Homo sapiens: one gene and its partners. The protein of the gene in region 3 purifies or fractionates together with the protein of the main gene of each other region. This does not show direct contact. Each region holds a gene or a part of one and is shown on either strand. Other genes may lie near its edges. The genes, in order: MYO1B, TPM4, HACD1 and ATP2B1.

Region 1 (7,381 bases), on a different chromosome or scaffold from region 3:
GTTTAAATTCCATCTGTCTAAATCACAGACAAGATCAAAATAAATTCTATTACCATTCAGGATTTGCAAGAATAAACTCCAAAAATGTTATCATAACATTTTCAAAGGATTTTGCATTTTTTAGGAGTCTGAACATATTCTGGGGTTTTACTTTTATTTTTTAGTTCTCACATACCAATTCTAGTCTGTTTAAAAGTAGATGGGGCAAAATAGAAACAATACTAACACTTTCATAAATATCCTGAGCAGCAGAAAAGCTGATCAGAAATTATCTTTTAATAATATACGCTAATAAAAAAAATAAAGTACCAAGTTCTAACATTTTGAAATTAAAGGTAATTCAGGTACTATATACTTTTTACAAATGTATAATCAAGAAGTTTTTTTCCCTTTGAAGTTTGCAATTTTATGAAAAAGGAAGTATTAGCTCTAATCAATATTCTTTCAGGATTCTAAAGATTAATCAATTAAGATTGTTTTTAGCATTGTCTTTATATATTAGACATAAAATTAATTCCCCCAAATATTAACCAAATAAATAAGTGTTTTAAAAAAGTAAATATTTTCCCTAATGTCATTTCAAAATCTCAAATAATTCATTATTTTTGCTAAATGGCTTGTGTTTTTAAAGCCTTAAGTCTTTATTGACTCTTAATTTGTACTGGCAAATCTCCTTCAATAGTGTTAATAGATATTTTTTATAGGATAGCTTAGAGTTTGAAAATAATAAAGATGATTCAAAAATATATTTAGACTCTTCATTAAGTCCATTAGCTTTGCTTTTGATTTTCTGTATTAATAAGATTTTAGTCAACATGGTCCAGATTCTATTTCTATTGAACATTTATCGATTCAACCACTTTAGCAGCTCAATTTGTCCTCACAAGTTAATGGGGTTTCGAACGCCCATCTCTGAGGTACAGCCTCCTTGCAGGGGTAACTTGGCAGGCCTGACTGGGTGCTCACAGCTCCCCCATACCTTTCCAGCATAATGCTGGATCCTGAAGCAGCTGTGAGGCAGAGACGTGTCATTGAGGAACCGAGAGCACTTGCTCATCCTGCTCTCAAAATGCTGGTGGGTGGCACATACTTGGTTCAGCTTTTCTAAGAAGGTCTCATCAGTGACTGTGCCAGGTCTGAGGCACTCTTCATCCAGCATGGCCAGGATTCCATTTGTGTTCTGGGAAAACGGAAATAAAAAAGTTTCCTTCCTTCCTCACTATATTGTTTTAATAATTATTCCTAATTACACCATCAAACACAATCAACTTAGTCACAAGAAAAGTCTGTTCAGTTATAACAAAAAGCAGAGACTCAAAACAATAACAAAAGCCACAGGAATCAGCTCTTTCCTGAAGGATCCCAGGTGTGTGTATGGTGGTGTGGTTGGGAAGAGTGTGTCTTCTTGGTTCCTCTCTCCTCGCACAGAACAACAGTACCTGGGAGTTGCCTCAGACACCTTAGCCTGATGATGACTGAAATTTATACTCTTACAAAAAGACAAGTTGGACCTCAAAGATTCAAAAAGAAATCTAAAAGCAGAAATGAATGTGACAATACAGCCTCTATAACATGTCTCAAATCACAAAGCAGTCTTCTAAGGCCATTATTTGATTCACTCCTAAGAAGGAAACTCGTTTTCTATGTTTCCAAATTGTTCATGTGTTCAAAATAAAGTTTATTTCCTAGAAAAAAATGCTGTGATTTGAGATGCTGCTTTTAACAATCACTGCAATCAAACTGATTTCAAGAATATCTGTTTCATATAGATTTAGATTTTAGAAATTCATGTGGAATTTCTAAATGGATGTTAAACATAAGTGAAAATTTATTTGTTGCATATCTAGACCCTGTGGTCATTTTTATTCCAAGAGTAGTCAGCCCTAAACTGAATCAGAAGTCAGGAAGCTTCTACTTTGCTAAATAAAGACTGCTACTCCATGGACTGCCCCTATGGGGTCATAAGTCTTAATTCCAAAAACAATCCACTCCACTGACCATCAACCCCACCTACTTCCACCCAGGCAAAGTCCTCTGTTCCTCTCCCCTTCTGCTAACAAGGCCACGACATCCTCTGACCAGCATTTATTCATTCCACACAAAACCCTGGGGAAGCGTGGACTCTCAGGAATCAAGTGTGTTCATAACATCCCCAGAACAAACATTATTGTTTAATGATGCTGGAAGGAAACATTTCCTTTATATACCCAGGTTCCTATGTGAACATGAGCTTCTTCAATCATATAGCAAGGGGATTTTTGGCTGAGATAATCTAGTTAAATTAAGTGTATTACCACTGTTCTTTTTCTCCTCTTCTTAAAAGAGAATAATTAAATGCAAGGTTATATTTATCAAAGAAAACATACTAATCAGAAATTCTGAAAATTAAGATTCCCATAGCAAATTACCTCCTTCACAAAATGTACCAGGAAAATTTTCAGGAAATTCACTTTTCAGAGCCAAAATCAGAGATCTGAATTGCTTATGTGGAATATTAGTGTTCCCATTCAATATTGTTCAGATTTTTTGAAACACAGTTTATTTCTTATTGAAAAATAGTGATGCCTTAGAATATTGTTTAATTTAATCAGAGAAACAACTTTTAGGAATATCTTGAATACTGAGGAAAAAAAATACTGGCTAATTACATATTTCCCAAAAAGCTTTGTAAAAGATGAGTAGAAAATGATTTAATATTCATTCAGAGCATGTGACTGTATTCCTGAAACACAGCACTCATCTCACTAAACTGGTCTTGCTAAAAAGACTGCAGGATAATAAGGCTTATACACTGTTTCAAATTACTTATTCAAAGTCAGGTATTAGTAATCCTAAGCATAAATTAGTTTCCTGTTTTCCACACACAAAATCAGTCTTCCTACATTTAATTCATTTACAATAAACTACGGAATATGATCTAAAAACAAAAATCTTGGACTCAGAAAGCTTACTCGAAATTATCCAATAATTTTTCACACTTTAAGCCTTTTTGCATATGCACATACTTGGGTCATCCGAAAAATTCCAGGTCCCTGGCCACCTGCAGTCACACATGCAATGCCCTCTGCATGTATGATCTGAATCAATGCTACAGCTGCACTTAAGCCACTTCTGGGGTCCCACTTAATTCAGCTCCAGAGGTTGTCCCTTTATGTCACTTAAACTTAATATAATACCCGGTGAATAGTATGTTAAGAGGTCATTAGAGTTTTGGGAATGAAATGGATATTTTGATTTGGCAAAAAACTGGATGGCTGCTCAGAGCCTACTCTGATCAGTACTCACATGCCCAGGAGTCATGGAATAGACCTGGGCTCCAACCATACAAGAAAGGCTGGTACCTTTAAGGCCTGGTGTCTGAAGGTCATAAAAGGGTGTTGTGATATGGCCACTGGGGATCCTGGCTAAGTATCAAAACATCCAGCTGTCTATGTATGTGTTCAAGAACTGTGTATGATCTCTTAGGGCTACAATAAAATCTCTAGAACTCTGCAGTTCCTTAACATATATATATATGTGTGTGTGTGTGTGTGTGTGTGTGTGTGTGTACGTGTATATATATATATATACACATATATATGTGTGTGTGTATATATATATATATATATATATATAAAAAACAGTGAAAATACTAATGCTTAACATTGAGGCACTGAGAACATTTATAAGGGTGAATTATAGGACTAAAACATTCTTTAGAAAACTGTACCTAAGTACTCACATTTTCTATTAGGTCACAAATGATAGCATTATTGAAGTAGTCAATGTGAGTCCATTCTATATCCTAAAAGACAAAACAGAACAAAATCCAATGACACAAGATGAAGCCACGACACTACCATCCATAAAACAGACTTTGACCATCTTATCATATTTCCCTTCCTCTCTGAATTTATTTTCTTTATAGAATGGGTACTGCAAATGTCACAGGCAGTTCCCAAAACTTTCTCAATGCAGCTGCCTACCACTGACATAATCTGATTGAAGCAAACACCCTTGACCTGTTCTGAGACTGCCTTCCATTCCACTCTCCCATCTGCAGCAATTTCCCATGCACTTCACTGGCCCTGGGCCAAATATTTACTCAACAGGCCCTTGGGTCAATATTACGTTGTGTATGTTTACAATGTTTATAAGGAAATAAGTTAGAACTTGATCCCAAGAATTTAAAGCCTAGATTCTTCTGTTCTGAATCTGTAATCATAAGGAAAAAAATTAATTTTAGAGTCAATCTTGTGTTGTAGGGAAGTTAACTCTTTCAAGTGTTAAAAAAAACAGGCCAGCGCTACCACAAAGTATTTTCAACATAAGGAAAGACATGAAAATCTATCCACTGGTTCTAACACTGGCTACAAAGCCAAATCCATAAAGCCAAATGTAATCTTTCTGTGTCTACTTAACATTCTGTCCATAAATGTAAACATTTATTTGTCTTCTATTCATTACAGCAAGCTAGCAATCTTCCTATATATTCTTAGAAGTGTTTTAAACAATCTGTATAAACTGTTTTAAGTTACCCATCAAAGTTTGGGCATTCTCTTCATGATGAGAAGACAGGAAAAGAATGAATCGTGCTTTTAGAATATTTATGTTACTAAAAGGTGCCAGACAAGTATAAAACATTTCTGAAGCATAATGAGTACTCTAAAATAAAGATGAAATATTTATGATTTAGCTTTTGAGTAAATGGGTTGTTTTACTAAGCCACTGGGGATAACAATCACATTAGAAAAATCTATATGGAAAGAAAGATAAAAGAGAATTCAGTGTCCTTAATGGCTTAAAATGATACTAAGAAAATAAAGGAAAACAGGTAATATCATTACTAAAATATTAAGGCAAATAAACAAAAAAGGAAATAAAAATATAAACATAACAATTCCTTTTTATTTTTTGAAATAACTAATTTTACACTTGAAAAAAGACTGGCTATTTTAAAAAATAAAAGGGTGAAAAGCAAATATATATTTTTAAATTAATGATGAAAAGACTCTGCAAACACTACTTCTGGTTATTTTAAGATTATATTAAATGAGATAATCTATACATAGCACTTAATATAATACCTGCTATGTAGTAAGGACTCAGTAACTGTTACCTATTTTTACTATAAATTTGAATACTCAATACTTTTTGATATTGAACAAAGTCTCAAAATATTTTCAAATCTACTTACAGTGATGCTGACTTTTTTGGTATACAGTTCTCTAAGTTTTGGCAAATGTATAATGTCAAGCAACCACCACCATTATCAGTCCCCAAAATTCTCTTTGCAGCCACAACCCTCTCACAACTCCTATCTCCTGGCAATCCCTGACTCTATAGCTTCTTATAGGTAATCAGTCTCTATAGCTTTGCCTCTTCTAGAATGACAGATGGAATCATACAGTATGTAGCCTTTTGAATATGGCTTCTTGTTTAGGCTATCTTCTGAATTAGAATTTATATTACGAGTAAAAAAGGACCAACACTTTTAAAAATAGCATTTCAACATTACCTCCCGTATATACTCCTCCTGCTCTTCTTTAAGAGTAAGTTCAATGAAGATTTGTTGCAGCTTTTCGTTACAATAATTAATAATGAACTGCTCAAAGCTGTTGTCCTGTATGGAGAAAATGAAAAACAGCTTTATAAACCATGCCACTAGCTCTCTCAAAACAATGACACTCAGACATCTCAATCCATGAGAAATGCCACACATGATCTCTCAGATTTAACTGTGGCCCAGCACACGGCTCCTAGGACAGACGCTTGCCCATTGCAGGCACTCGAGGAGTGGGTCATGAGTAAGTGAATGAATGAAGTATACACAAATGATGCAATATTTGAAGGATGAAGACTTTTAGTTGACAGAGAAGCACCCCAAACAGAAAAGCTAGAAACAATCTCACTTCCTTTGCTGAAGGATCAGCAAAGACACAGTGAGCTCCACAATCTCTGTCACCAAGTTCTGAATCTCCCATTCTCAGGTGAAACTTCAGAGCTCAAGGAAGTCCCCCTGAACTGACCCCTTATTGTCCCCATCCAGGGACAGATCCCTCACTCTGACTCTTGCATCCTAACCCTTTTTGTAAATCATGTTATACGAACATGTGTGTATGTGTAAGTATACACATGTACAGATTAGTTTCATATACATCTGCCTCACTAGACTGTACATTCTTATGGGTGAGGGCTGACCATGCTCTCTTGTTCACTGTATTCCTACCCCTTACACAGCACCTCACACCTAGCAAGTTCTCAATATGTATTGGCTGACTGTATGAACAAATGAAGTTCCTACCAAATGGAGACCCAAAGATTAAAGCATCTCCCTGACAAGAAACAATCTCTCTCTCTGTAGAAGGCCCATACCCTTGATCACTCTTAGAAGTCTCAGCAGCCTCTCCTTCATATTAATCTCTTATGAATTTGTTGACAGAAGCTTTATGCCTAAATCATTTCTGAACAATCTGCAGGGCTTAATGTATTGCTGTACATCCTGAGAGCACCAAATGAATAAATTTATCAAGAACCACATCGTCCAGGAAGAAGTAGATCTGACACTAAAACTTGTTTTCACCTCTATTTTTCTTTATCGCCCAAAGATGGTGGCAGTGGGAGCGAGGGATAGTATGACTCCACCACTGGTAAACTGGACTCTTCTCCCACAATGGTGGCCAGTCCTGGTCTAATGAGGAAGGAGAGCCCACATGTAATGGTGCAGCCAAAGCTCACTGCTCCTTGTGAACAGGCAGAGCCACTGGCCTTCAAATCCCTCCATACATGATAGAAGTGAAAAAGTCACAGAGTCTTCTGAAAGTTGATCTTTAAAAATCAACTTTGGTCTTACTTAGGAAAACTTAAAAATGATACTTATGCTGCAGCATCTAACTACATTCTTTCCTGGAAGTCAGCTAGGAATTTCTAATCACCAGTGATGCAGTGATCAGAGGAAATTTTAAACTCAAACTCATAAATAACACATGTGAATATATTGTCAGTGACTTATCTTGTTAATGCTAAACTTAGTTAAGGATAAAAGTTTGTTTGTTTTATGTCTTGAAGAGTCTTACTAAAAGGCAAACATTTATTTTCAATAATTTTGACAAATATAGTCAGATACAAAGGGCACTCCTCAGTCCTCATTTTCACACAAATTTTTTAAAACCCTGTGCTCAAATTCGCAGAGCTAACAATTTCAATTAGAAACTGAAGTTGGTCTAGTATAGATGCCTTATTATTATTATACTCAGCATAAAGGCATTCCATATATCAGAAAGTCTCAATTGCTTTGCTAAAGTATGTCCCTATATGATGCAACTATAAATAAAACCTATAAGTAAAAGTAAAACATTAATAACTTATAAGAGCAGATCTTTGACTTTTTTTTTAGACAACA
Region 2 (7,381 bases), on a different chromosome or scaffold from region 3:
GTATTTTCAGTCGAGATGGGGTTTCACCGTAGTGGCCAGGCTGGTCTCGAATTCCTGACCTCCTGATCCACCTACCTCGGCCTCCCAGAGTGCTGGGATTATAGGCATGAGCCACCACACCTGGCCTCTTTTTTATTTTTTTATTCTTTTGAGACAGAGTCTCGCTCCATCACCCAGGCTGAAATGCAGTGGCTCAACCTTGACTCACTGCAACCTCTGCCTCCTGGGTTCAAGTGAATCTCCTGTCTCAGCCTTCCAAATAGCTGGGCTTACAGGCATGCACGACCATGCCCGGCTAATTTTTGTATTTTTTGTAGAGACAGGGTTTCACCACGTTGGCCAGGCTGGTCATGAACTCCTGACCTCAGGTGATCTGCCTGCCTTGGCCTCCCAAAGTGCTGGGATTACCGGCGTGAGCCACCATGCCCAGCCCTTTTATGTTTTTGACAGAGGGTCTTGCTCTGTCTCCAAGGCTGGAGTGCAGTGGCGTGGTCAGAGCTCACTGCAGCCTTGACTTCCCAGGTTCAAGCGATCCTCCTGCCTCAGCCTCCCAAGTAGCTGGGACTACAGGTGCATGCCACCACACCCAGCTAATTATTATTATTATTATTTTTAGAAATGGGGTCTCACTATGTTGCCCAGGCTGGTCTCAAACTCCTGGCCTCAGGTGATCCTCCCGCCTCGGTCGAAGTGCTGGGGTTACAGGTACGAGCCACCGCGCCTGGCCTTTTGCTGGCGCTTCAACTGAAAGAGCCATCCTGGGGCCTGGAGGAAATCCTGATTCTCTTCCTCAAGCCTGAGGAGCGAGGCAGACAAGAGGCGGGAGGGAAGAGCCGAGCCATCGAGGGAGGCAAAGGAGGGCCTGAGCTTGCATGGTCTGAAACTCCATGGCTTGGGACCACAATCCTCCATTTTTGCCCAACTGTGCCAAAACTCCCAGCTAACGACACAAGTGAGCTGATCATTCGGTTTTCCCATTACGTTAGACAAGCGTCCGCAGCACTTTCTGGCATCGTGGGAGATAGTTTCCTAGCCAAGTGGTTGTCTCTGGACAAACATATGTTCACGCAGGAGGACAGCTGACCTAACCGAGAGCTTCCTTTCGTTGGCCCCGGTGTCCTCCCTATCTCAGCAGATGCATTTCCTCCCACTTCCTGCTGCTGCGCCATCTGCCAGCCCCACTCACCTCCTCGTATTTGCGGTCAGCCTCTTCCGCAATGTGCTTGGCCTCTTTGAGCTGCATCTCCTGAATCTCCATCTTCTCCTCATCCTTCATGGCCCGGTTTTCTATCACCTTCATTCCTCTGCAAGGAGCAATCTCATCAGGACGGCCGTTCACTCACACCCCTCCACCCACCTCTCATCTATCTTTTCTTTCAGATGGAGTCTCGCTCTGTCATCCAGGCTGGAGTGCAGTGGCACGATCTCAGCTCACTGCAACCTCCACCTCCCGGGTTCAAGCGATTCTCCTGCCTCAGCCTCCTGAGTAGCTGGAATTACAGGCACCCGTCACCATGTCTGGCTAATTGCGTGAGACACCACCCCTAGTCCCATCTCTCATCTAAATGAGTCTCTGAATCTACTGAGCACTGTAACACACTGCAAAGATGGAACTCTGTGCACACATTTCCTTCATCTTGGTTTTTTTTTTTTTTTTTGAGATGGAGTCTCGCTCTGTCACCCAGGCTGGAGTGCAGTAGTGTGATCTCAGCTCACTGCAGCCTCCATCTCCTGGGTTCAAGCAATTCTCCTGTCTCAGCCTCCAGCATAGCCGGGACTATAGGCATGCACCACCGTGACCGGCTAACTTTTATATTTTTAGTAGAGAGGGGGTTTCGCCATGTTGGCCAGGCTGGTCTGGAACTCCTGACCTCAAGTGATCTGCCCGCCTTGACCTCCCAGAGTGCTGGGATTACAGGTGTGAGCCACCGCGCCCAGCCTCCCTTCATCTTTACTACCAGGCACTTTTCTAAGTGCCTTCACTTTCACAACTGCCCTATGGAGCAGGTAAATTATCCACATTTTACAAATGAAGAAACTAAGGCATAGAGAGAGGGTAAGTAACTTAAGGTTACAGAGCTGGTAAGTGGTAGAGCTGAGGCTCAGCCCTTGGCAGTCTGACTCCAGAGTCTGTGCCCCCTTTCTTTTTCTTTTATTTTGAGAGATGGTGTCTCACTCTGTTGCCCAGGTTGGAGTGCAGTGGTGCCCTGAGAGCTCACGGCAGCCTTGTCCTCTCAGGCTCAAGCAATCCTGTTGCCTCGGCCTCCTGAGTAGCTGGGACTATAGGTGTGCACCACTGCACCCAGCTAAACTAAAAAAAAATTTTTTGTGGAGGTGGGGGTTTTGCAATGTTGCTGAGGTAGGAGGATCGCTTGAGCCCAGGAGTTCAAGGCTGCGGTGAGTCGTGATTGCACCACTGCTCTCCAGCCTGGGTGACAGAGCAAGACGTTGTGTATTTATTTATTTTTTTTCTTGAGACAGGTTCTCACTCTGTTGCCCAGGCTGGAGTGTAGTGGTGTAATCATAGCTCACTGCAACCTTGCCTTCCTGGGATCAGGTGATTCTCCCACCTCAGTCCCTTGAGTGGCTGGGACTACCAGCATGCACTACCATGCCTGGCTAATTTTTAATATTTTTTTGTAGAGATGGGGTCTCACTATGTTGCGCAGGCTGGTCTCAAACTCCTGGGCTCAAGCGATCCGCCCGCCTCCCAAAGGGCTGGGATTACAGGTGTGAGCCACCGCACCCTGCCAAGACCTTGTGTATTTAAAACAAGAAAAGAAAAGAAAAGAAGAGGCCAGCCTGGGATAATGTGTCATTGATATGTATCATTCCCACCCAGCACAGAGACCATATGCTTCTTGCTGTCCAATAAATATGTTCACGTGGGGTGTCACCCGTTCTCAGCTAAGTCTCAAAACACCCTCCCCCACCTGTACGAGGTCTCACCCTCAGCATGTGAGCAAGCTCTCTGGGTTATTTATTGCCCCAAAACCCCTTGTAGTACCCAAGAGATCAAAGTGACTTGCCTAAGGCTCCATAGAAAGTGCCAGTGGTAGAAGCTGACTCTAGATCCCCAAGCTTCAAGTATATAATTCTTTCTACTGAGACACAGCAGTCTTTAACAGGGGTGTCACCAAAGGCCTCTGGGGACATGGTGCAAACAAGAGACTGGCCTTCGCAGCCTCCCTTGGTTTGCCAATATGGGAGCCCTCAACGTCAGCATCCAGCCAGGCTGGTCTGACTGTGAACAGCAGCTAACCCAGGCCACAGGCACAGCCAGGAACTCTCGTGACTGGGTCCTTCCACTGCCCCGTGGCTGCCGGAGCTGCCACTCTCTCCCTTGATTCAGTGGCTGAAGCAGAGTCTGCAGTAGCGTCTGTTCCCTCTGCCCTGGCTGTTCCACTACTTGGGAAGAAATTTCCAGCTTGGGTGACATGCAATCTCCAAGATTCCTTAGCTGGTTTCTAATCTCTGGTTAGTGGTCACAGCAGCACAACCAGAAATGCATCTTAAATTAGCTAGGCGTGCCAGCACTTTGGGAGGCCAAGGCAGGTGGATTACAAGGTCAGGAGCTTGAGAACATCGTGGCTAACACGGTGAAACCCTGTCTCTACTAAAAATACAAAAAAATTAGCCGGGTGTGGTGGCGGGTGCCTGTAGTCCCAGCTACTTGGGAGGCTGAGGCAGGAGAATGTCGTGAACCCAGGAGGTGAAGCTTGTAGTGAGCTGAGATCACGCCAGTGCACTCCAGCCTGGGCGACAGAGCGAGACTCTGTCTCAAAAAAAAATTAGCTGGGCATGATGGCATGCGCCTGTAGTCCCAGCTTTACTCTGGAACTCTGGAGGCCGTGGCGGGAGGATCGCTTGAGCCCAGGAGGTCGAGGCTGCAGTGAGCTGTGATCGCACCACTACATTCCAGCCTGGGTGATAGAGTAAGACCCTGTCTCAAAAAAAAAAAAAAAAAAAGAAATGAATCTTTGGGAGGTGTTTATACTGCAAAAGCATGGTGGCTGGCTCAAGTGAGAACTCCGGTGTGAATGAGGGGCAGACGCGATGATCACTGGTCGGGCCCACACCATTGCCACACAAGGAACTCCTTTTCCACCACACACAGACTGCTGCTTCTGTGAATTACACAATCTACCCTCAGTCTTCCAGAGAGCCTGTGCCAAGGCGTGCCAGAGAATGATCTGGCTACCGAGGAGAAGGCACCCTACTGGTGGCTGGGTTGCAGCACAGATACCATGGGCGGGTGAGGAACGTGGTCAGTTTCTTTTTGAGACAGAGTCTCACTCTGTTGCCCAGGCTGGAGTGCAGTGGTGCGATCTTGGCTCACTGCACCCTCTGCCTCCTGGGTTCAAGCTGGGGGATCTTGCCTTAGCCTCCTGAGTAGGTGGGATTACAGGTGCCCGCCACCACGCCCAGCTAATTTGTGTATTTTTAATAGAGACGGGGTTTCACCATGTTGGCCAGTCTGGTCTCAAACACCTGACCTCAGTTGATCCACCCGCCTCGTCATCGCAAAGTGCTGGGATTATAGGCGTGAGCCACGGCACCTGGTGCATGGTCAGTTGCAAGTACATTAACCATGCTGGTTTGCAACTGTCCCTGAAATAGCTGTCACCGTCCAAAAGCCTAAAGCCTGACAGCTCTGCTAACAATCACCTGTGCATCCCAAGTTTCCTTTCCTCCTCTCCACAGTACTCTGCTTTTTTTTTTTTTTTTTTTTTTTTGAGACAGAATCTCATCTGTCACTGAGGCTGGAGTGCAGTGGCACAATCTTGCCTCACTGCAGCTTCAAACTCTTGGGGTCAAGTGATCCTCCCACCTCAGCCTCTTGAGTAGCCAGGAGTACAGGCGTGCACCACCACACCCGGCTAATTTTTGTATTTTTTGTAGAGACAGGGTCTCACCACATTGCCCCAGTTGGTCTTGAACTCCTGAGCTCAGGCGATTTGCCCGCCTCTGCCTCCCAAAGTGCTGGGAGCACAGGCAGGAATCACTGCATCCGGCCTACCTGAAATTTGGTGTCTAGAGAACACTAAGAGGCACTGTGGCTTTCAGAGAAAATACGAGAAGCAGTGCTTTGCAAACTGACCACCATGGACAGTCATACTTGCAGTCTCACATCTGCCCGTTCTGTTTGCCTTTCTGTCTGTCGGAAGTTTCTTTTCATGGTTACCGTAAGGATAAACACCCCTCACTTTATTTTGAGATGGAGTTTTGCTCTTGTTGCCCAGGCTGGAGTGCAATGGCACGATCTCGGCTCACTGCAGCCTCTGCCTCCTGGGTTCAAGAGATTCTCTTGCCTCAGCCTCCTGAGTAGCTGGGATTACAGGTGCCCGCCACCATGGCAGGCTAATTTTTTTGTACTTTTAGGAAAGACGGGGTTTCACCATGTTGGCCAGGCTGGTCTCAAACTCCCAACCTCAGGTGATCCGTCCGCCTTGGCCTCCCAAAGTGCTGGGATTACAGGCATGAGCCACCGTGCCTGGCCACGGATAAACATCTCTACCCATGGAGTGATGGTTTACAAAGTGCTGTCATGCACTTTTTTGTGGACACATGCATGTCCTTGTGACCTTGTTTACTTTCACACCAGCTCTGCGAGGTCGGCAGCATGATCCCCATTTTCTAAAAGCAAACACGGATGCCACCAGATTCAAAGCGTCCTTACCTCTCACTCTCATCTGCAGCTTTTTCTGCCTCCTCCAGCTTCTGCAGGGCCGTGGCCAGTCGTTCCTGAGCCCTGTCCAACTCCTCCTCAACGAGCTGGATGCGTCGGTTGAGGGCGGCCACATCACCTTCAGCCTGGGGAGGTCGGAGGTGCAGCCATGTTAAGAAGTATCAGGCCAGCCACCAGTGGGAGCCTCCCCCATGTCCTGCCCTCTGTTAACCTGATCTTCCCCGTCAAAGCCCACCCAGGAGTCCAGGCCATAGGGAATTTACACTCATACCAAAATTTCAGTATGATCTTCCCGGAAAATGTCTGGGAAAAACATCTACCACTCCATAGCAAAAGATGAGCATCGCCAAGCGTGGTGGCTCATGCCTGTAATCCCAGCACTTTGGGAGGCTGAGGTGGGTGTATCACAAGGTCAAGAGATCGAGACCATCCTGGCCAACGTGGTGAAACCCTGTCTCTACTAAAAATAGAAAAATTAGCTGAGTGTGGTGGCACGTGCCTGTAGTTCCACATGCTCAGGAGGCTGAGGCAGAAGAATCACTTGAACCCGGGAGGCGGAGGTTGCCGTGAGCTGAGATCGTGCCACTGCACTCCAGCCTGGTGACAGAGCAAGACTCCGTCTCAAAAAAAAAAAAAAAAAGCGAGTGTCCCAGTACAAGATGGGTAGTTGAGTCAACATAGGAGTCAAACATACCATGTGCTTTGAGATGAATGTCAGTGCTGGTCTCTCCAGCAACACAATAGACCCAACGTTAGGCTAAGATCTAAGATAGGCTCTTCTCTGAAAAAGGCACACAGTGTTACCACGTAGAGAGTTCTAGGGCTCACTGTGAGATTCTTAGAAAGCAAGGCCATCAGTGACCCGGCTCATTGTGTCCTGTGAGTTCCGCTCCCATTCACCTGAATGGCAAGATAAATGCAAGACTATGGAGCCCTCAGTTAAATGTTGGCCATGCAATTACCAAGGTGGGACGAGGCGGGGGAGCCTCGTTGGAATTCCATCCTTCAATCCGCCTGGCTGAGAGATGGCAGGACAAAAAGATATGGAAAGGGAAAGAAAACTTGGTTGCAGGCATGGAAGACATACCCCAATAGTGTTATTGGCTTTTCAAGGTGTTTTTACCTACAAGAAAGGAAGTACAATGGGAAGCATTAAACCAGGAACTCCAGGGCCAAAAAGTGCTGGGCTGGAATCCCCGCTTTGTCATTTTCTTTTTAATTTTTTTTTTGAGATGGAGTCTTGCGCCGTCACCAAGGCTGGAGTGCAATGGCATGATCTCGGCTTGCTGCAACTTCTACCTCCCGGGTTCAAGCAATTCTGCCTCAGCCTCCTGAGTAGCTGGGATTACAGACGGACACCACCACGCCTTGCTATTTTTTTGTATTTTTAGTAGAGACAGGGTTTCGTCTTGTTGGTCAGGCTGGTCTCAAACTCCTGGCCTCACGTGATCCACCCGCCTTGGTCTCCCAAAGTACTGGGATTACAGGCGTGAGCCACTGCGCCCGACCGTGCTTTGTCATTTTCACAGCCACGTGGTGTTGGGAAGGTTGCTTCCTCATCCTGGCCCTCTCCATCCCAAAGCCTGATTAGTTACCGGACTGCCTTGAGGCTGTAACTCCAGAGGGTGGCGCCGCTTATGCCCAGCAGGTGGGATGTGCCAGAGAAAGGCATCTCTTACTGCCACGGTTTTA
Region 3 (7,381 bases):
CATACGTTATTAGGTCAGTTGGACAAATTGTCATCTGTCCAGTCAAATTTGAAGAATATTTTGAACCAATTTGAACCAGTGTTTCAAACCAGTGTTTCATAGTATAAATGTTGGTGGATAAACAAATTAATATCAGCTATAAACAATGCCAGTGTAAAAATATTTCTGAATATGATGATCAGAATAATCAAACCAATGAACCTTATCACAAAACAAGCTTTGAATATCCTGCTTAGGCAACTTTGGATAAAAAGTCTTTCTATTTAGGTTCTTCCTAACTTAAGAAAGGTTACCATCACATTATATATACCTAGGGGGCTAAATTTACTCAGGTCATAATTACTTAAACTCACTGACCAATTATTGTAAATACTTCCATAAAATTCCGAGTAGCTGAACAGAAGGTATGGGCTTGAGTTCAAACCCTGCCTTAACTCACCAGCTACTGATTTTTTTTTTTTTTTTTTTTTTTGAGATGGAGTCTCACTCTGTCACTCAGGCTGGAGTGCAGTGGTGTAATCTTGGCTCACTGCAACCTCTGCCTCCCCGGTTTCAGTGATTTTCCTGCATCAGCCTCCTGAGTAGCTGGGACTACAGGTGCCCACTACCATGTCTGGCTAATTTTTGTATTTTTAGTAGAGACGGGGTTTCACCATGGTGGTCAGGCTGGTCTTGAACTCCTGACCTCAAGCAATCCTCCCACCTTGGCCTCCCAAAGTGCTGCGATTACAGGTGTGAGCCACCACACCAGGCCACAAGCTAGTGATTTTTAAGCAACTCACTTAACCTCTTTCATCTTAATGTAAATGAGAAATAATACTACTACTTTTGAATACTAAGTACTCAAAAAGTACTTTTAATTAGCAAAGGATTTAATAAGTAAAATTAATTGATTTATTACTAACATTAAGAATGCAGGGGGAGGAGGGAATTAAAAAAAAATGCAGTGGAAAACATGTTCTGGGCTGAGTGATTCTCTGGCCAGTGGGACTCAGTAGCTGGCAGCATGGTGAACTGGGAAGCTGCTACTGGTACAGGCCAGAGTCTACATCTCCCAGGACAACTGAAAAAGGTGCTTCAGGCTCTCCATTTCCATGGAGATGCCTCAAAAGCCATGAGGAGGAAGAGAACCCACTGTTTGAACCTGTAACTGTCAGACAGACACCGAAGCAAGCTCTGGTTCTGTTCAAGTAATGCTACCATTAACCTGCCATTGGGAAAAGAGAGGGATGTGAACCAATAGAGTAGGCATCCCCTCCTTAGCTCTCCCGAACTGGCTGGGGTAGAAAATCAGATACAGAATCAGGCTGAAGTGGTAGAAGACAAGGGGAAAACATATCTTTCACCACTAAGTCAATTTTGACTTTGGGAAAGATACAAGTTGGAGACATCTGCCGGGGGCAGGGGCTCATGCCTGTAATCCCAGCACTTTGGGAGACCAAGGTGGGTGGATCCCTTGAGGTCAGGAGTTTGAGACCAGCCTGGCCAATATGGTGAAACCTCGTCTCTACTAAAAATACAAAAATTAGGTGGGCACTGTGGCAGGCGCTTGTAATCCCATGAACCTGAGAGGCAGCGATTGGAGTGAGCTGAGATGGCGCCACTGCACTCCAGCCTGGGCAAAAGCGCAAGACTCTGTCTCAAAAAAAACAACAAAAAAAAGTTGGAGACCTCAAGGGGCTGGCCAAGTTTTATGCGCATCTCCTTTAGATGAAATAATTTGTATCATGTCGATGTAGATTTTAGAGCTATCAATATTTGACTTAAAAATATATCACTATTAGCCCCCACGCCTTTTTTTTTTTGAGACAGAGTCTCACTCTTATTGCCCAGGCTGGAATGCAATGGCATCATGTCAGTTCACTGCAACTTCTGCCTCTCAGGTTCAAACGATTCTCCTGCCTCAGCCTCCTGAGTAGCTGAGATTACAGGCATGCGCCACCATGCCCAGTTAATTTCTGTATTTTAGTAGAGACAGGGTTTTGCCATGTTGGCCAGCCTGGTCTCGAACTCCTGACCTCAGGTGATCCACCTGCCTCGGCCTCCCAAAGTGCTGGGATTATAGGCATGAGCCACGGAGCCCTGCCTCACTATTAGCAGCACTGAAATGGAGTAAAGCCTTACCAATTCACTTCAACTGCTGAAAGATGATGAGAAATTAGTGAAGAGGCTGACTTATTCAAAATCCTTTAAGAAAAGAGGCTTTATTATTTGCAAGTACATAGAGCAACACAAATAAGACTCAAAACTACTCCTAGATGATTTTTCCAAGTATATGCTTAATGAATAGATAGAAATGATCTGAAATTTTCTTGGACACAGTGTTTATACTCAGACATATAATTCTAAATGCTTGTAAAAAGTGCACTAATGCTTTAAACATGATTTGTTTTTATCTTTCTTTAAAAAAATCATACTAAGCTGATGTTTAAATGATTTTGAGAAAGCAATAATCCATGCGTTAATTTACCTGCCTTTATTCTCATAGCTAATGAACTGTCTTCTGCCTCTATCTCCCTTCACTTTTCCCAAATTATCAGTAAATATGGAGTTAAACCGAAGTTTTAATGTATTTGTAAGCAATTATTTCTAATTATTTCCCCTTGCATATTATTATATCCTTTCAAAAATTTCCACATCATATGTCAAATCAAAGTACTAATAAGTATATACTTACAAGGTATATATGATGCCATGGTTATAAGAAGAAAATAATAGTAGTCAAAAGAGACATTGTATTTGTTAGGAAGTCTTATTGAAAACATTCCTGTTTTCTTCACATGCGGCAAGGCAGCGTATATTGTAAGAAGTTCACCAGCAACTCCAACAGGATATAAGATGATAAAAAAATTATATCTGGAGAAAGAAAAACCTCAGAGAATTATTTTTCTACAATAATTATTAGACTTTACATTGCAGGTCTATTGCTACTACTAAATTTAAACTTCAAAATTCTCTTTTCTTTACATATTTACAATAACCTTACGTAAGGTTAATAGTTCTACTTTAATCATTTGCTTATTGATTATCATCCTTTTTTTCCTAATACCAGTTTCCATAATAGGCAATGTCTTTTTAATAAAATAGTATCAACTTATTTTAGAGTACCAAAATACTTTTATGTATTAAAAAATGTATATGTAGTTTTTCTTGTTTTTGTTTTGAGATGGAGTTCGCTCTTGTCACCAGGCTGGAGTGCAGCGGCACAGTCTTGGCTCACTGCAACCTCCACCTCCTGGGTTCAAGTAATTCTCCTGCCTCAGCCTCCCAAGTAGCTGGGATTACAGGTGTGTGCCACCATACCCAGCTAATTTTTGGTGTTTTTTTTTTTTGTTTTTTGTTTTTTTTTGAGATGGAGTCTTACTCTGTCGCCTAGACTGGAGTGCAGTGGCACAATCTTGGGTCACTGCAACCTCCACCTCCCGGGTTCAAGCAATTCTCCTGCCTCAGCCTCCTGGGTAGCTGGGACTACAGGCGCCCGCCACCACGCCCGGTTAATTTTTGTATTTTTAGTAGAGACAGGGTTTCACCATGTTGGTCAGGCTGGTCTTGAACTCCTGCCTTCAGGTGATCCACCCGCCTCAGCCTCCCAAAGTGCTGGGATTACAGACATGAGCCACCATGCCCGGCCTATGTAGCTTTAAAAAAAGTATTGTAATGGTAACTTCTTTGGTGCATAAAATCACAAATGACTGCTTTTGTCCGCGGCAGCTAGTAATTTATTGATCAAACACTGCGTTTAAAAAGACCAGTGATTATCCTAAATTTTATATCTAAACCTTGAAATTACCAAGGTAGTTATTTTTAAGAGGCATTTGAAAAAGTCTTTGTGGTTACTAATGAAAACCAATTATTGCAGAAAACTGATAATACCACCTGAAGCATGAGTAGCTACTAATGAGTATATTATATTGTCTAAAACTGCTACCGTAACAAAATAAATTGACAAGTTAGTTCCTGAATTCCCACATTAAAAGAAGAGTGAGCTTGTTTAAAGTAGAGTTAAGAAAGTTCTACTCTAAATCCAAAGTCATCATGTGTTCATTTGGTCTGTGGCAAGGTCTGGAACACACAGTAGGCCAGGCATCCTGTATGCTTCCAATTAGGAAACACTCTGTGTTCTACTGGCTGGTCTCCAATAAGAGGGGCCTAAAGGATCCAAGATGATCATATTTCTTCATTAAAAAAAAAAATCATTTTTCTCTGACTCAGTCACTATATAACAGTTACCACAGAAAACTTAAGAGGCCAGAGTGCAAGACCACTCTGGGCGATATAGTAAGACCCCGTCTCACAAAAAAAAATTTAATGAGCAGACCACAGTGGTGCATGCCTGTCGCCCCAGCTACTTGGGAGGCTAAGGCAGGAGGATTGCTTGAGCCTAGGAGGTCAAGGGGGCAGTGAGCCAAGACCGCACCACTGTACTCCAGCCTGGGTGACACAGCGAGACCCTGTCTCAAAAAAAATAAATTTAATTTAAAAAAAGAAAAATGTTTTTAATTTAAAACAAAAGGTCAACATTTTGATGGAAAAAGAAATCAAATTAATCTGTATTTTATTTAATCATTTTGTTGGCATTAGGAAATATCTATAAAGAAAAGTCAAAGTTGTCAGTATTGAAGAAGCTTGGAGACAAATTAAAAATTGCATTATTCCTGTATGTCAAGGATATGCGAAGATAAGAGATGGGGAGAAGGGCAGAATTATTTGCCAAAATAGATGAGCTATTCAAGAAAGAAGAATGATTCCTTCACTGTACCTGTTAATCCCTTCTTGGCCTTGGAGAAACTCCCTGCTTTCTTACCAGTTTTGGGTAGTTATTTGTGTATCATTTAAATCAATCTTTCCCTATTCCTCAATTTATTAAATCCCATAACTGGACATTTTATATACCTGTCTCAGTAAAATACCCAAACTGATTAAGTTGCAATTTTTACTTTATGTGGTTTTCAAAAGATTTTTTTTTTTTTTGGCAGGATTGTTCTTCAATAGAAGAAAAAATTAACACTCCTACAATAAGCTAGTTGAAAGTCTTAAGGGCAATGAAAATTTCTAATGAAATGGGAACAAATTATATAATTTGACTTTACTTGCACTTCAAAAAGATTGCATGTTACTACTTCTCTAAGTTCTGAGGGCAGTATGGGAGATTTAACTATGGATAGACCACATTAAAAAAAAAGATACAATGCTTCTTTGAAGGTTCCCAATTACTATCTAAAATTTTTTTGAAGGGAGTGCATTTTAAATCAATATGAAAAACCTAACTTAATATATACAATTACCTATTCTGAGGACTTTTCCAAGAACACTTATGACACATAAATAGAATCAAAGTATATTCAAACTGTAACAATAGGCCAAACTACTTATAACTAAGAAGCCATTTCTAAAGTGTAGTTTTATTCGAGAATGACAGCTTCAACATCTGAACATAAATACAAATATTATTTTACCTTACTTAATGGAGTTGGGAAACATATTTAGATGGCTGGGATTTTTAAGATCTTTTTGACATGAAACATAATTATTTATGATTATGATCAACTGACAAAGTATTATGTAACATATGATTTCAAAGCTGAAAGACTGTATAACTTGTTTAACATTAAGGCAATGGATAAACACTTTCTTCTTTTGAGACAGAGTCACGCTGTGTCACCAAGCTGGAGTGCAGTGGTGTGATCTCAGATCACTGCAACCTCCACCTCCTAGTTCAAGCAATTCTCCTGCCTCGGCCTCCCAAGTAGCTGGGATTACAGGCACATGTGGCTAATTTTTTAATTTTTTAGTAGAGATGGGGTTTCACCATGTTGGCCAGGCTGATCTGGAACTCCTGACCTCAAGTGATCCGCCCACCTTGGCCTCCCAAAGTGTTGGGATTACAGGCATGAGCCACCACGCCCAGCCTGCAATGGATAAACACTTTCTAAACAGCAAATTTAAACATACGATGGCAGAGTTTTTATCTTTTCCAGACACTCAAGACATGCAAATGCATTCCAAAAGACAGACACACAAAGCCATCAAGTCTAATGTGCCAACCTCAGGAAAATATGCAATGTACATTCTGCTATCCTCTTCAGACAAATTTTGTAAATTCAGCACATGAAAAGAGACTATATGGTAAGTTAGTATTTTCAAAGGTGCCAGAGGTCCAGAACATTGTCATGCGAAATGATATTGATGTGTTCTAGGATTAGAGTCCAGCTACATTCAAAACTGCCAACCTTTAAAAAGCTCAGTCACTAAAGGTAAACACATTTTCATGTACAGTAAGATTAAAACCAACCAAATCCATATAAATGGTAGTACAACCTTCTTATGACAGACAAGACACTTAAGCTCAAATTATAATTTCAAAGTATCTCATCATATACAAAGTGGTAAGCCGCAAGTGTCTAAAAAAGAGCTAGAGAATATTAAAAAGTCACAAAGAGTATATAACATGGCCAGGCGCAGTGGCTCACACCTGTAATCCTAGCACTTAGGGAGGCCGAGGTGGGTGGATCACTTGAGCTCAGGTGTTCGAGACCAGCCTGGGCAACATGGTAAAACCCCATCTCTACAAAAAATACAAAAATTAGCCAGGTGTGGTGGCCTGCACCTGTACTCCCAGCTACTTGGGAGGCTGAGGCAGGAGAATCGCTTGAGCCCAGGTGGTGGATATTGAAGTGAGCCGAGATCGTGCCACTATCCTCCAGCCTGGGTGACAGAATGAGACCCTGTCTCAAAAAAAAAAAAAAAAAAAAGAGAAAAAAACCCATAAAACACAATTAACAGTGGTTATCCTTGGTTAGAGAGATTATAAGTAATTTAAAAGTGGTTTTCCTTCTTTTTGGTTTATATATTCTCATTTATTATATTTGAACATGTATAATACTTGGGATTAAAAAATAGTAATTGACCAGGCATGGTGGCTCACACCTATAATCCCAGCATTTATCACCACCTGACATATCACATATTATTAGTTTATGTTTTGTCTTCATCATAAGACAGAGAATTTGTTTTGTTCATACCTACATCTCAGGCATGCAGTAGGCACACACCATTTGTCATTGTTATTGCTACCATAAAGTACAATACAAAGAATAAAATGAACAAGTCTATACTGATTTGTGACTTGTTCTCCAAAGAGCAGTTTTGCTTTTATAATAACTTTCTAAAACGTCAATTGCTCAAAGAATTCAAACTTCAAGAAGAACAGATATCTTTTCCTTTAAAAACTGTTGCTTTAGGATATATTTGGAGCCCTTCAAATATAAATTTTATCCACATTCCAAATAATACAATTTTAAGTAAGTGTGACTTTTAAAAATGTCTCTGCAACTTAAAGCAAAGAAAAAAACCAATCGCATTGTGTAAATGGTATAAATTG
Region 4 (8,124 bases), on a different chromosome or scaffold from region 3:
GCTATCTATCCACTAACTTATGTCCTTTTAGTCTGAAGGAATATCCGATCTTTTCTTCTAACAAAGAGCTAGACTAAAGGATAAACACACACTACTGTAAGGATACAGCATGCATTATTTTTATGAATATAAACTCTGGTGTCTAAGTCATTTGAAAATGGCAGACATTAAGACATGAAAATAAAAGAACATTCTCTAATAGTTTACAGTGCTTAATAAGTAACTTAAGTAACCACAGATGGATCTTCTGAAAGACTGGGCATACATAGATAACAGAAATATTTTCAATTTATCAGTTCTAGGATTGTCACAAAAACCATCGACATCAACAAATCAAACTTTGCTACTGATTTAGGTATCTCTACCATGTAACTTTAACTTAGTTATAAATGCAATGTCAATGTTTCTCAAAATGCAGACTACTGTAGCATTTGGCCCCACCTCAAATCTGCTGAATCAAAATTCCAGGGGCAATGCCAAGGAATCTGCACTTTCAGTAACTCCCCCAGGTGATTCTTCATGCACATTAATGCTGGAGAACCACACCTTTCTTGTGAGATTTATAACCAGGTTTTGGATTTCAGGAACTAAAACCTCCTCATTTGGAACCTTTTAAACTAAATTTCATTACAGAACAAATGAATATTTCAAAGAGATTTAGGTAATAAACATGTTATAGTATAAAAACAAGTGCATAAAAAGTTACAGCAGAAATTTAAAGAAGAAACTTTTAGTACAGCACATTTTATTTTTATTCAAGATTTAAGACACCCCTAGGCCAACAGTTCTTTGAAATCAAAATTCCTAACTTAAAAAAATCCACAATATTAAAAATATAGTATTTCAGATACGTTCACATTCACTCAGCTGTTAAGTAAATCAAAACACAAACTGTTTGTATTACACCAAATATAAGTAATGATTAAATTTATAAAGCTCAACCCAAACAAACCCATTCATATTTCTCTATTAAATTTACTCTGATCAAAACTGATTTTCCATACATAACTTTCATAAACTTACATAAACGTGTATAATGAGAAGAGCAATGAGCAAAATCTAGAAGCCACCTAAAGTCCAGTTTGGGCTAAAAAAGCTGCTAGCTATATGACCTTAGGGCCTAGACAAATCACTTTGCCTACCAGAAAAAAAACAAAAAACAAAAAACAAAAAAAAGTACAATTGTCTGCCTTACTCACCACACAGGATTATTGTGAGAATCAAATGAGGTCATATGTAAATACATTCTGAAAACTGTAAAGTAGTTAATAATAATACCTGTGATTTCTGAAGACAGCAAAATTTGAGAGACACTATCTTTGGGCACCTGCTGTAAAATACACAAACTACCACCAGAAAAATTAAAATGTATATGCCACTAAAGAATCAACGAAGAACATAAAAACTGACCATTCAGATTTAATTAGATATTGGACACTATTGAGTATACCGTATTCTGAAAAATACAAATACAAAAATTCGATTCGATTACCTGTCCTATGTCCCCATTTATAACAGAACCATTTCTTGTGTTAAGATATAAATGAAATGTGATGGACCACGAGAGTTGGTAATTGTCAAAACTGGCCAGTAAGTATATCATTCTCTCTACTTTCCTATGTTTGATAATTTCTATAATAAAAAATTTTAACAAGACAACAATATATGTGGTATGTATAGATAACATTTCTAAAAGCTAAAAAGTGAATTTTTTAAAGTTATTTATCTTTATGAAAATTATTCCCATAACCATTGTATGTTATTTTCCTGGCAATGTCACCTCAGATTCCACCTAGTCCCAAATAAGCTACTATTAGTACCTTTATTACATATCATGACAGCTACTAGAAAATAATTATTCCCTTCCATCTGGTCAATACTCTTGCCCGAGATGCAAAAACCTAAATGTTTGTTTCTGCTTTCTGATCCTCAGTCCTTTTATTGTTTTTTGCTCATCCATTACAAAATTCCAGAATAAAAAAGTGAAAACATCAATTTTACTGTATTCATGTGTAAAATGTAAGGGAAAAAAACCAAATATTATTTTGTTCAATATTACAGAAGACCAATAGTTATAAGTGGCCGTTCCTTTTAAAACTCATTTCCCATGGTAAGAGACTGTTGCATCTGAAATGAAGTTAACATGTCTGTCAGTCAAAGGAAATTAGTAAATCTTACTCTGAAATCAAGGAATCTATGAAAGTATATATAACAACATATAATTACTCTACATGCAACAATCTAATAGCTCAAATAATGTCCTTTATCCCGGGGCCATATTCCATAGTTCGACAGAGAACACATAGCAGTAAGGGGATAAAACACCTTTCATCTCAGAGTTTTTGGCTAATTTTAGTTTAATAAAGACTTATCTACAGCTCAATAGCCAATGCTTTACATTGTCTATAGAGAAATTGCAAGTGTTGAATGAAACCTTAAATGCAGATAGAAGGGCAGTAATATTTTGCGGTTTGTAAGTAAGACTATATGTAATAATATCCACATCTTAATTCATTACTTGGGAGCTAAATCCCTTTTCTCATGTTACATCAAAAAAGGAGGCTGTGCCTAAAGAGACAGTGTTCCTTATACTTATGATTTGGGAAGGAAGGGAAGGGAAAGAAATCTCAACTGTCACTACAGTAACTCTTTTCTAAGTATTAAAATCTCCATTTATTTTTACATGAGATGCACCTGAGAGGAGCCATGTATACAAACCACTTTTTCTAACATGGTCTTTATTAAACTTTGAATATAAGTACACCTGCTCGAAGTGTTCATCTATATTATTTAAGAACAAGCAACTGTAAAACAGTAAAATCACAAAAGGTAAGTTGTTGGAAGACAACAAAAAAGAATTACTATATCTGATCCTGCGTGTTTATTTTAGAATCTGTTAATAGGCCTACAGCTAAAAAAAAAAAAAAAATTGTAAAGCCACTGTCATACTGGTAGGTACCTTTATTTGGTGGCAATGGCTAGTTCAAACCACCTATTAAAAGCAGCTATTACTTTCCTTCTTTTACCAAGAATATCCAGACCATCAATATTATTATAAACACAAATCAAAACTAGTTTCTCATCTCATCTCAGAATGCTAAAATCCCAAGCTTCAATAAAAAAAAGATTTCCCATACAATTGCAGAAATTTCTCTCAAAAGAGAAATGAGAGAATACAGAAAAATGAAGACAATTCCCCCTTACACGTCAAAATGGGGATGCCAATAATGACAGCTGCGATAAAAATCAAGAAGGCGTACCCCGAATTTTCACCATTTTAATAAAAGAAAATCACGAAATTTTAAATTAAAGGTGGCGCTCTGTCCTCAACTCACCCGAATGTGACTCACTTTTGCAGACTATATGGTAGGAAATTAACAGTTACTTTTCAAAGATCTTTGCAGTTACACCCAAGCCAAAATCAGGACAGAGATCCACCCTTAATTACAGCAATTTAGCTGTCTTATCTAAAGCAAGGTAAAAACTAAAACGTCCTCCTGAAATCATAGCTAAATAAGCCCATTTCATATACTAGCTATCAAAGGTTCCCAATTAAAAAAAAAATGTTTCTATTTACTTCAAATTTGAACTCACCAGGAGGATAAAGAAAAAGAGAGGGGAGGAGGAGGACCCAAATGAAACGCACAAGTACAAAAAGCAGATTCTCCTCCAATCCCTCTTAATTCCCCCAATCCACCCCTGCCACACACAAGGACAGGGAGTCTCGGGAAGGCTGGCATCGGGGCAAGTGGTGAAGGCCCTCCATTCACTCACGTGGGCCACCATCCAAAGGGTTACACACCCTCTGCCAGATGAGAGCCTCATACAAACCAGGCCCTTACAAGTACTTCTTATTATAAAATACACCCACGCTGAACAAAAGCCTTATTTTAAAATAAGACTGTCCTCAGGTGGGGGAGGTTAAACACAACAAAGGCTTCCATGTTGACAGGCAGACAAGTTCAGATATATGCATATACCTACACACGTATGAAAAAAATCTATGTAGCTAATTTATCACGAACAGCAATCGATACCAACAGAAGCCATTAGATTATTAATAAACCAAGAAAAGTAGCGGGCACAGAAGCGAAAGGTGGCTGTCTGCAGCGCTCTAACCCAAAGAAAAGGTAAATATCAGCCTGTCGAGGAGGGTCGAGCCCTCCAAGTACCTGCAGACCCCTTTAACCCACCCGGACGCCCTGCCCTCCCCTCCGAGCCAAGCAGCGCACAGGGTGCGAGCACTCCCAGCGCTGCGAGTCCCGCAGAAAACTGGTGAATGAAATGCGCACAGAGACCAACCTGGCTGGTGACCGCGGCGCAGAACCAGGGGTCGCTAACCAGCTTAGCCACAGGATTCTCCCGCAGGATGGGATAAAGAGAGCACAGCCCCCACCCCACACCCCTGCCACTGGAACGCGGTCCTCCTACAGACTCCTTCCTCAAAAAGGGAGGTGGGGGCGCAGGCTTTTTTCTCTTAAACTAAGTGAATAAACACGAATCGGAAACAACTGTGAACATCCTGGGGGGCCAGACGGAAGGCGTGAGGAGAAAGACCAGGCGGCTCTCCAACTCCCGAGGAATCACCGTCCTGACACGCCAACAATCAACCACCAGGGCCAGGGGCCGACCAGGGGCCCCCGCTCCCCTCCCGCAGTGCGTCTGGGGGGCCGAGGCCAAGGATTAGAGGGGTGACCCTCCCGGGGCGCGGGGAGAGGGAGTGCCGGGCACGGTGCCCTCAAGGTCACCACGCGCCGTGGCGGGGGCGACCGGTGGCGGGATGGGCTGTGGCGCGGCCGAGGCGGCTTCGTGAAGCCGAAGACCTGCGGGTGTAGACCAGAAGCCCCAACAAGCCCCATCCCTCGGGCCCGGAGCAGCGACTCCCAGACTGACCCGGCGCTGAGGTGCACGGCGAGAAGCCCGCTCACCTTCACAATCTCCCGGCAAGAGGCAACCTGCGAGGGGCCCCGACCGCCCCCGTCAGCTTCTCCCGAATCCGGCGCAACCCGCTGCGCACCCAGCTATCAGGATCCCCGCCGCGACGCCCGACCTCCGTGCTCCGCCTGGCCTCCCCCGCAGGTGACCTGCCCCGCCGCCCCCGGCCGCGGGCGGGCGGCGGCCGCCACTCACCTCGCCCGGCAGTGGGAACCATTTTCCGAGGGGGAAGGAAAGGCAGGCTGCGGGAGGGTCGCGGGGCGTTAAGGGGCAGCGGGAAACGCAGAGGATGGGGGCTCCGTCCTCAGCGCGTCCGCAGCCGGCTCGCAGGGCTCGGGGCGCCACGCGGAGGTGCAGCTGCACCTCGGGGATGGGGCGGCCAAGGAGCCGAGAGGCTCGGCGTCCACCAGCCGGGGCTCCCTACTCACGCTGCACTGCGAGGAGGCGGCGGCGGCAGCGAAGGAGGAGGAGGCGGCGCCCGGCCGTCCCCGCCCAGAGCCCGGCAGCCACCGAGTGGCCGCCCGCGTCCCCGCAGGACCCGCCTCCTCGGCTCCGCAGAGCGGCACACAGGGCGCGCCGCGCTCGCTCGGCACGGGCAGCTCAGCCGGCCTCACGCCGCCGTCCGCAACAGCAGCCGCGGGCGGGGTGCAGCCACCTCCGTGAGCGCCGCAGCCCGCCCCACTCGGGGCGGGGCCCGCGGGCACCGGAGAGCGGACGGCCGAGCACGAGGGGGCTGCGCGCAGCTCCGGGCAGGGACCCCGTCTGCACCGGGTGGCCTGCAAGATTGCCGGGGTAGGCAGGGGGAGGAGAACGCTCACCCGTTCCGGTCTGGCGCTCCCTTTTCTCCACACCCACACGCCTCCCGCTCCACGCTGGCGGCGCAGCTGCTCCCGCTGCCACAGCCGCCACCGCCGCCGAAGCTCGCGCCGCCGCCGCTGCCGCCTTGGCTGAGCGCGGTCACGTGACGCGATCCGCGGGGAGCCTGGGGGCGGGCGAGTGCGCGCGCGCGCGCGCGGAGGAACCGCGGCTCGGACCGGGACTGGGAGCTGAGCGGCACTGGGAGGGCGTTTAAGGGGAGGACCCGGCGAGCGCGCCCTCGGCTGGCGAGCGCGCGCCTGGCGATTAGAACTTGCCGCGCGGTCGGGAAAGGGTGGCCGGAGTGAGGGGCGGAGGTGGGGACTTGCGCCTCCGCACGCCCCTCCCTTTCTTCCTTCCCCTGAGCGCCTTGGCTTGCCGCTGCCCCCGCCCCCTCCAGCGCGCCCCTTCCCTCCTGCCGCAGCCTGCGATTGGCTGAGAGGCTCTGACGTCCGTGTTTCCATGACGTGTTGGTGCAGGAGGGAGCGGCGGGGGAGGAGGGGGTGGCCAGGCGCGCGGGGAGGTGACTCCGTCAGTCACAGCTGCTGTTTCGGCGCGGGGCCGGGCCGCTGCCGCGACGTGTGGAGGCAGGAGAGCGATGATTGCCGCAGGAGAAGTGCGGGCGCCCTTCACCTGGGGCCCCTCCCGAACCGCCCCCGGGCCCATGCCCCTCCAGGGCCCAGGAGCGAGCCAGCGGGAGGGCGAGGGCGAGCGCTCCTGGCGAGGACAGATTAAGGCGAACCCCCAGTCAGCGGACATTTGAGCGGCTCCTCGCCGCGTCTCTGCCCCCACTCCAAACCGGACTCGACGCCTGTCCCGGGCCGTGACGCACGCACCGGAGGAAAAAGTGCTTCTCGGCTCGCTCCCTCTTTGGGGAAGAGAGCTCACTCCCCATGCGGGCGCGGGACACTCCATCTCTGTTCCTGCCGGTCGGGTCCGCAAACACCGGGGATCCCAGCTGCGGCGCCCAAAGGGTTAACGCAGGCGTTCGGCCAGTGCAAACCGGCCTCGCAGGATCCGCGCTTAAAATCCGGGTGTTTTCATTTTGGGTTTGTTTCTTCTACTATGCCAAGCTGGTGGCTCTCTTTTAATTCTCTTGTAACATCTCAACCCTGCACCCATCTTTCCTGAGGGGAAAAGGAAACGGGATAACTTGCGGTATTTCGATGCTCAAAGGTAACCGGCGGCTCTGCTCCAACCTTCAAGAGATTTTGCAAGTTGAAAAAAAAAAAAAAACCATCCTTCGTAACATCTACTTAAAAAAAAAAAAGCAAGTTTTCCTTCTTGTACACGCATATACACAGTAAAGATGTGTATCTTACCTAAGATACCGCGCTTCATCTTCATCTAATCTTTATTTGAACTCACCGTCGCCACTGGCCCAGAGACCTTGTCAGTGTTATTTTCAGTATCAGTTAATCAGAACAAAAAGATAAGTTCTGCAATCTTCTTTCTCTTAATTCCAGAACTGGAAAATTAATATTTATATAGCCTCCTCAAAAGCATACAGGCAATAGGAAGTATGGTATTATGTTCACGATCTGATGATAGCATTTGTTTTAAAATATTTTAAAAGATTAGACACAAAATGTGTAAAAGACGTTTAAAAGTGAATAAATATAAATCAATGCTGTTGCAAATAATTTTTTTATCAGTTTATGTATCTCACTAGGCTTGACATTACCAGCCTTCTGAGCTGTGCCCTTGATGTGTAAGATAAACGAACATTGAACAGAATGATAGCATTTTTCCTCTCTTCAGTCACTGATGGAGAATTGGTTAATGTGGTACAATAAATAGCCCTTCCTGACACTATTTCAAATCTTTTTAACAGAAGAATAACCTAAATTTCACCTAATAAATTTCAATATTATTTCCCCCTAAAATATCTTTCAAAACGACTCAGAGACATTTAAGAATCACTGGCTTTTTTCCAACTTTTCCTCCAAGGAAGTTACAATACAATGTTGAATTATGTATTCTACTTTAATCAAGAATTTGACATTAAAGTAATATGTGAATCATTGCTATAGTACACTAGCAAAATGGGTAATAAACTAGAATCTGTTCACTTTGTGGGTTTGTTCCAGTTCCAGATTATAAAATGAATGCTCTTAAAGTGTTGTGGTCATGAAACAATTATTGAGCATCTTTATTTAAGAACACGATTCAATTAAGTTTTCATTTATATCGATAAATCTATAAATGAAACATACGGAATATATATATTCATGTATATCCATAAATGAAAACGTGTGTGTGTGTGTATCCCGGAACATATTTGTATGCATTTTAATGAAATGTGAGTCATATGCAATGACAAACTTTTACTGT

What was found.
Region 1: the proteins of HACD1 (region 3) and MYO1B purify together in Homo sapiens (affinity purification with mass spectrometry; one large-scale study listed by BioGRID and IntAct). This does not show direct contact.
Region 2: the proteins of HACD1 (region 3) and TPM4 purify together in Homo sapiens (affinity purification with mass spectrometry; one large-scale study listed by BioGRID and IntAct). This does not show direct contact.
Region 4: the proteins of HACD1 (region 3) and ATP2B1 purify together in Homo sapiens (affinity purification with mass spectrometry; one large-scale study listed by BioGRID and IntAct). This does not show direct contact.

What each region holds. Positions count from the first base shown.
Region 1 is NC_000002.12:191,379,683-191,387,063, reverse strand, and holds part of MYO1B (unconventional myosin-Ib), read right to left. Parts: intron 5,603-7,381; coding exon 5,498-5,602; intron 3,785-5,497; coding exon 3,722-3,784; intron 1,181-3,721; coding exon 980-1,180; intron 1-979. UniProt on the Homo sapiens protein: Motor protein that may participate in process critical to neuronal development and function such as cell migration, neurite outgrowth and vesicular transport.
Region 2 is NC_000019.10:16,080,346-16,087,726, reverse strand, and holds part of TPM4 (tropomyosin alpha-4 chain), read right to left. Parts: intron 6,813-7,381; exon of another isoform or gene 6,775-6,812; coding exon of another isoform or gene 6,652-6,774; intron 5,815-6,651; coding exon 5,681-5,814; intron 1,305-5,680; coding exon 1,187-1,304; intron 1-1,186. UniProt on the Homo sapiens protein: Binds to actin filaments in muscle and non-muscle cells. Plays a central role, in association with the troponin complex, in the calcium dependent regulation of vertebrate striated muscle contraction.
Region 3 is NC_000010.11:17,591,528-17,598,908, forward strand, and holds part of HACD1 (very-long-chain (3R)-3-hydroxyacyl-CoA dehydratase 1), read right to left. Parts: intron 2,857-7,381; coding exon 2,678-2,856; intron 1-2,677.
Region 4 is NC_000012.12:89,703,466-89,711,589, forward strand, and holds the start of ATP2B1 (plasma membrane calcium-transporting ATPase 1), read right to left. Parts: upstream 5,374-8,124; 5' UTR 5,131-5,373; exon of another isoform or gene 4,929-5,130; intron 4,683-4,928; exon of another isoform or gene 4,303-4,682; intron 1-4,302. UniProt on the Homo sapiens protein: Catalyzes the hydrolysis of ATP coupled with the transport of calcium from the cytoplasm to the extracellular space thereby maintaining intracellular calcium homeostasis.